2 linked regions of the Homo sapiens genome follow. The protein of the gene in region 2 interacts with the protein of the main gene of each other region in a pairwise test. Each region holds a gene or a part of one and is shown on either strand. Other genes may lie near its edges.

The links.
Region 1: the proteins of PACS2 (region 2) and NBPF15 interact in a two-hybrid assay, tested with the Homo sapiens proteins (one large-scale study listed by IntAct).

The regions. Positions count from the first base shown.
Region 1 is NC_000001.11:144,451,619-144,455,429, forward strand, and holds part of NBPF15 (NBPF family member NBPF15), read right to left. Parts: intron 532-3,811; exon of another isoform or gene 341-531; intron 1-340.
Region 2 is NC_000014.9:105,380,641-105,384,451, forward strand, and holds part of PACS2 (phosphofurin acidic cluster sorting protein 2), read left to right. Parts: intron 1-313; coding exon of another isoform or gene 314-316; coding exon 317-459; intron 460-1,273; coding exon 1,274-1,418; intron 1,419-1,836; coding exon 1,837-1,941; intron 1,942-2,166; coding exon 2,167-2,273; intron 2,274-2,718; coding exon 2,719-2,873; intron 2,874-3,712; coding exon 3,713-3,811. UniProt on the Homo sapiens protein: Multifunctional sorting protein that controls the endoplasmic reticulum (ER)-mitochondria communication, including the apposition of mitochondria with the ER and ER homeostasis.

The sequences.
Region 1 (3,811 bases), on a different chromosome or scaffold from region 2:
CTCTTAACAAGCATGCTGCCTTCAAGCATTTGTTTAACAAAGCACACCCTGAACAGCCCTTAATCCATTTAACCCTGAGTTGACACAGCCCATGTCTTAGGGAGCACAGGGTTGGGGGTAGGGTTACAGATTAACAGCGTCTCAAGGCAAAAGAATTTTTCTTAGTACAGAACAAAATGGAGTCTCTTATGTCTACTTCTTCCTACACAGACACAGTAACAATCTGATATCTCTTTCTTTTCCCCACAGTTCAGGTCAGGCCGTGGCTCATGTCTGTAATCCTAGCACTTTGAGAGGCCAAGGCAGGTGGATCACTTGAGGTCAAGAGTTAGAGACCAACCTGGCCAACATGAAGAATCCCTGTCTCTACCAAAAATACAAACATTAGCCAGGTGTGGTAGCAGGCGCCTGTAATCCCAGCTATTCAGGAGGCTGAGGCAGGAGAATCACTTGAACTCAGGAGGTGGAGGTTGCAGTGAGCTGAGATGGCGCCGTTGCATTCGAGCCCAAGGAAAAGAGAAATAACTCCATCTCCAAAAAAAAAGATAAAATAAAATAAAGACGGTTCACTACTTCAAATATTATTATGTGAAAATGTATCATCTCAATTTTAATAGTAGATTTTTAAAAATTCTTTTTCTTGTGCTCACCAGACAAGGTTTGGTAAAAAATACCAGTCACCAGCACAGATGAACCAATTCAAGGAGAGCCATAAACAGGACTACTATTATGTTCCCCCAAAAACCATCCCTAGAATGCAATCTCTTCTCTACTTGTCACAAAACGAACACAATAGTCCACTATATAAAGTCCCAAACACAGGAAAATATAAATATAATGAAGTCTGCTTTCCAAATATTTATTCTATTCAGACCCAGTCATGGGGACCAGGGATTAGGAAATGACTACAAACAGGTTCAAGGGAATTTGGGAAGTGACAAAATATGCTGAAGTAGAACTCTGCTGATGGCTGCACAATTCGATAAATCAACTTACATCATTGAGTTGTACATTAACAATGGGGGACTTTTATAACAAGTAATTCTTTAAACAAACTTTTGGGTTTCTATTTCAACATGGAAAGAGCTAGGCAGTCATCACTTGTCCTCACAGCTAGAAAAAAGCTGAACAAACTGAAAGTCAACCCTTCTAGGGTGGATCAGAGAATTGAGGTCACAGGGAAAACTGCCACCTTAAAAATGAGAAACACAGGCTAACACACAAGGAGTCACAGCTCACAGGGAAGAGAAGCTACTGGGGACAGCAAGTGGGAGGAGCACTTAAATGGTACTGACAGATTACTAGAAGCTGAGGGTAGCCTGGCTAGAACATTAAAAACTCCTTGAAGACCAGACTAAGGGGGAATCTCACACATTTCCAAGTGTTACTACAATGATCTCAACCAGGTTCTCATGATGAAGTTCAGAAAAACTCCCTGAGGTTTGGCACTACCAACTTCAGGACTTACATTAAGCTACAGTAACCCAAATAGTGTGAAGTTGGTGAAAAGAGAAAACACACACATATAGATGCATGGAAAAGAATACGGAGCCCAGAAGCAGGCCTACATACAGTCCACTGATCTTCCATGGAGGTTTAGAGACAATTTAAAACAGCAAAGATAGCCTTTCCAACTAGTGGTGCTAGAACAGCTGGACAACCACATGCAAAAAAATAAATAAATCCAGGTATGCATGTTATACCCTTTATAAAATAAATCTTACACGTAAATGTAAGGTGCAAAACCATAAGAATCCTAGGAGATAACATAGGAGAAAATCTGAGGGATCCTGGGTTCAATGATGGCTTCTTAGATACAAAACCAAAAGCACAATCTACTAATGAAAAAAAAATTAAGTTGAGCCTCATTAAAATTAAAAACTTCTGTTCTGTGAAAGACACTGTTAAGAGAATGGAAAAAGCAAGTCACAGACTGGTAGAAAATATTTACAAAATAATCTGATGGAAAAACTGCTGTCCAAAATATATGAAGAATTCTGAGAACTAAACAACACAAAGCAAAAAAAAAAAAAAAAAAAAAAAAGTGAAACATCTGAACACCTCATTAATAAGATATACAGATGGCAAATAAGCATATGAGAAAGATGCTCAAAATCATTTGTTGTGAGGGAATTGCACATTAAAACAACGAGATATCACTGTAAACCTATCAGAATGGCTAAAACACAAAACGGTGAACACACCAAATGCTGTCAAAGATGAGGAACAACCAGAACTCTCCATAGCTAGTGGAAATCAAAAGTGTACAGTCACTTTGGACAACTTAAGTTCATTCAAAATCCTGCACATAAGTACTTGCAGCAATTTTATCATAATTGTCAAAACTTGGAAGTACCCAAGACGTCTTTCACCAAGTGAATGAATAAACAAACTGTGTTGTAGCCATACAATGAAATCTGATTCAGTGATTTTACAAAACAAGCTGTCAAGTCATGAAAAGACGTGGAGGAACTTAAAGTACATAATGCTAGAAAGAAGCCAGTCTGGAAACCTACATACTGTAATTCCAACTCTAGGACATTCTTGGAAAGTCAAAAAGATAGAAGTAGTAAAACGATGAGTGGTTGTCAGGGGTGGAGGAGAGGAGGAGGCACGAAATGGTGAAGTACAGGGAATTTTCAGCAGTGAAACTATTTTGCATGATGCTGTATTGGGGATTTAGGACATTACATAATTGCCAAAACCCATAATCTGTGAAACTCAAAGAATGAACTCTAGTGTAAACTATGGACTTTAGTTGATAATGATGTATCAATAGTGGTTCATCAATTGTAACGAATGGACCACACTAATACAACATACTAATAGGGGAAACTGTGTGCTGGAGGACAGGGGAGCCTAGGAGAACTCTCTGTACTATCCACTCCATTTTTCTGTAAACCTAGAACTGTTCTAAAAAATAACATCTATTACTTTTTTTTAATTAGGATGCAGCAGCCCCATACCAAGGTTTTGGTGGCATCCTGTTATTGTGTGGTTAGTACTTGGCATTGAAGTGCACCAACCTGGAGTCAGAGCAGTTGGAGATTTCAATGCCTGTGCCATTTACCTCTAACCCTGGGGTGCCCCCGGAACACAGCTAGCAGATCAGTTAGGCAGAAGCAGCCTCAGTCATCTAGACAGTGCAGGGTTCTGGTAAGGACAGGTGCAAACCATCTAGGTGGGCAGAACTTGGTGATGACTAGGAACCACTGAGACTCAGCAGCTGCCCCAGTGGCACCCACAAATCAGAGGAGGAGGAGGCTGGGAGGACCTAAGGGCTACAGGACGAGCTCCCTGCCTACAAGACAGAAGCAGCTCCAGAGGTTTTGGTAAGTAATGTAGATTTCAGTGCAGTGTGGTCTTTTTTAAAAAGTAGAACAAAAAGGAAAGAAAAAGAGAGAGCATGAGAGACAAAGAAAAAGAAAAGAAGAAAGGAAGAAAGGAAAGAATGGAGGGAGGGAAGGAAGGAGGAAGGAAGGAAGGAAGGAAGGAAGGGAGGGAGGAAGGGAGGGAGGAAGAAAAGGAGGGAGGGAGGAAGGCAGGGAGGGAGAGAGGAAGGGAGGAAGAAAGGAAGGGAGGGAAGGCAGAAGGGAAGGAGGGAGGGAAAGAATAAAGAGAGAGAGAAAAAGAGTGGGAGAGAAGTAGGGAAGGGAGAGAAGTAGGGAAGGAAGGAAGGAAGGAAGGAAATGAACAAATTTACATGAAGATGAGAACATCCAGGGGAACTTACACCACCAGTATTTCCCATTAACAGGAACACGCTAACTAGTTATTGGAGACAGATGCACTACTGTAAAACTATATGCTG
Region 2 (3,811 bases):
GTGGATGGCACCCAGGAACGCCTGGTTCCCCCCTGCTGCGTTGCATGGGGTCTCCTCAGTTAGGAGGTCCTGGGCCCAGGGCAAGTCAGGTCCTGGGAGGTTGGGGGCTGGTCACCCTGCATGGCCCGGATGGGAGCCCTGTGCTTGGAATTTGGCTCAGCTAGGCTCCCTGGTCAGCGTATGGCCGGGTCCACATGTAGGAGCCACGGCCTAGAGAGGCCTAAACCCTCACCCGAGCCAGAGGCCACAGGGCTGGAGAGGCCGCAGCACGGGTGTGGTTTCCACGGGAGGCTCCAGGCCCGTCTCTGCTCAGCAGGGTGTGCCAGGCCCGAGGGAGCACCCTGGACAGCCTGAGGACAGCCCCGAGGCTGAGGCCTCCACCCTGGATGTGTTCACGGAGAGGCTGCCGCCCAGCGGGAGGATCACCAAGACAGAGTCCCTTGTCATCCCCTCCACCAGGTGATGGGGGCTGCACGGCGGGGCGGGGCGGTGATGCACCTGTCGGGGGAGGGGCCGTCACGGGCATCAGTCGGGGTGGGTGCGTGTCAGTCCATCCTGATGAGCTCCCTCGGGTGTAGACAGCAGATTCAGGGCCTCGTCCTTCTTAAAAAGGAGAAGCAAACCCCCTGGCCCGGCATTGGGTGTCAAGCCTGCAGCCCCAGATTCCACCCTACCTGTTTGAGGGCAGGGTCAGGCGGGTCTGCCCTCCAGCAGGTGCCCCCACATCCCCCTGAGTAGCCCCTGCCTCAGCCAAAAGACACACATACACCAGCTTGATTCTTCCAGGATTTCAATTTCATGTTTCTGTGATATTTGGGACTTTTTCCAAAGCAGCGAGTCTGGGCACTGGTTTTTACCTTGTGGTGGCACGCAGGTGCCTGTGTCCGCGCTTTGGAGCCAGGTCGCCCTGGCAGCCTCAGTGCCCTGCACTGGCCTGCACCTGGCTCTGCCCAGCTCTTGGCCCGGGCAGGGAGGGTGAGCTCAGTCCTCACGGTGGCTCCAAGCCTCCTGGCCTGGCTCGAAGTCTCACAGGCAGAGCTGTGTGGGGTCCCATCGGAGGCACGGCCTCACTTGTACTCAGCTGCTGCTGTGGCCCTCCCAGGGCTGGTGACCTCTCTGTGCAGCCCATGTTCCCACTGCCCATCAGTCAGCCCTGTGCTCACCCTTCCCTGTCCCCACCACAATGTGTAGGCCACTGCAGGCCTGCCCCTGCCTCTGCCCCTGTTCCTGTTCCTGCTGCCACAGCCACTTAGCCTGTCCTGGTCCCCAATAGGTCCGAGGGGAAGCAGGCTGGCCGACGGGGCCGGAGCACATCCTTGAAGGAGCGGCAGGCAGCACGGCCCCAGAATGAGCGGGCCAACAGCCTGGACAACGAGCGCTGCCCGGACGCCCGGAGCCAGCTACAGGTGCAGCTGCAGGTGGGGGTGGAGGGCGTGGCACGCCCAGGAGGCAGGGCTCGTGGTCACCCTGGCACCAACCAGAGCAGGGCAAAAAGAGAAGCACAGGGGGCCAAGGGTGCTGGGCCACAGAGCATGCCTGGGCTTTGGAGGGCTCCTGCTACACAGCAGGGCGGGCGGGCCATGGGTTGGTTTGTCAGGAAGACCATGTGGACCCCAGGGCAAGTTCTAGTCCTTCTGCTGCCCTCCCTGGTCCAGGGCAGCCTCATTGCTTGGCTGATTTAGCCCAGGGCAGTTCTCCAAGCTGGCCAGCTCTCTTCCTGCCACCGAGCCTCTGTGGCTGCAGGGGGAGCAGGGGCACTGCAGGCACCAGGGCTGGCGTGGTGGGGATGGGCGCTGTGCTTCTCTTCTGGGTGTGGACAGGGCTCTGTGCCTCCAGATCCCCAGGAAGACTGTGTATGACCAGCTCAACCACATCCTCATCTCCGATGACCAGCTTCCCGAAAACATCATCCTTGTCAACACCTCGGACTGGCAGGGGCAGGTAGAGGGGCAGTCTCTTGGAGTGGAGGGTCAGGGTGTAGGACAGAGGAGAGTGGGTTCCTGAAGCTGCCCCCTACCCGGCACACCTGGGTGCTGGAGCTGCTGGCTGTGGTTTGCCTGGACGTGCCTGGGGTCTCTGGAGCCCCTGAGAGCTTTGGTGAGGGTCAGGTGCTGGGGGTGGCCTGGGCGGCTGTGCCGAAGTCAGCGTCTGCCTGTCTTCTGCCAGTTCCTCTCCGACGTCCTGCAGAGGCACACGCTCCCCGTGGTGTGCACGTGCTCTCCTGCGGACGTCCAGGCGGCCTTCAGCACCATCGTCTCACGGATACAGAGATAGTGAGTTGGGCTCCACCCTGTACTCACCACCCAAGTACCCCTCGGGGTCCCTGCACCCCCACCTCTGCCCATTGCTCCGGGGCTAGGTGCGTCCTGGACCTGGGGCTGTGGCTGGTGTCCACAGAGGCTGACCCATGCGCTCTTCGCAGCCTGGCCTCCCCTCAGTTGTGGGCGGGAGCAGCAGCCTGGTGGGTGTCCTGCCACACTGGAGTGGTGGCCTCCTGGCCTGTCCTTGGAAGCCTGGGCTGAGGCCATGACTGTGTGGTCCCTCAGCCTGGGCACGTTTGGGCATGTGGGGGTCCTGGGCTTGGGCAGCTCCAGGGCAGTTGTGGCATGAGCGGCCACAGGCACGGAGCCCCCTGGGCTCACACTGGCATCCTTGGATGGAGGACGGCTCCCCTGAGGCGTCTGTCCCCTCTCCGTCCCACCTGCCTCTGGATTGCAGCTGCAACTGCAATTCCCAGCCCCCGACCCCCGTGAAGATCGCCGTGGCGGGAGCGCAGCATTACCTCAGTGCCATCCTGCGGCTCTTTGTGGAGCAGCTGTCCCACAAGACACCCGACTGGCTCGGCTACATGCGCTTCCTGGTCATCCCACTGGGTGAGCACCACGCCGTCCACCTGGGCCTGGGCACAGATGCCACGGGCAGTGTGGCGTGGCATGGAGTGGTGTGGCGTGGCGTGGCGTGTTGTGTGGCGTGGCGTGGCGCGGTGTGTCGTGGTGTGGCGCGGTGTGGCATGGCGTGGTGTCCCTGCTTGCTACACATTTGTTGTTTTTAAATGTTTGTTTGATACAGTAACACTTTGTTAATTTTAATTATATGCAAGATAACTTGATTGCCCTAAAACAGCCATTTGGGTCAAGATAAAGCCATCGCCCTCTGAAGGGGCCTGAGCTGGGTGTCTCCTCCATCAGTCGCTGTGATAACTCTATGCCAGTTTCGATTTCCAAAGTCAGAAGTGCAAAGCAGGGCTCGTTATTAATCCTCTCAAATCGTCCAGGTCCTGTGTCGTCGAACTCCATTACTTCTTTAGGTCCATACGATGTGTCTTACCACGAAACAAACCCACCCAGCCTTAATCTGTTGACCAGCAGCAAGGCCTGGAGGCGACACCTCTCCCGTGTGGCCCTCACGATGCCGACGTCAGAGCCCTGAGCCAGCCGAGGCCTCTGCACGGTCACATGTGCCCTGCTGGGCCTTCCTCAGTGGCACTCAGGGCTCTGGGACCTCAGCTCAGGGCTGGAGCTCCTTCAGCGGGGCCACAGGCATCCACCAGGGAGGGGCAGTGGTGGCTTTCTCTTTCGGTGGCAGGAAAGTGGGCTTGTCTGGAAGGCAGCAGCACAGGCCTGGGGTCGGGTGGCCCAGCTTTTGTGCCGCGGTGGGAGCCTTGCAGCTCCGAGTCCCCCGTGGTGACACCAGCCCCACCCCTGGCATGCAGGCTCCCACCCCGTGGCCAGGTACCTAGGCTCCGTGGACTACCGCTACAACAACTTCTTCCAGGACCTGGCCTGGAGAGACCTGTTCAACAAGCTGGAGG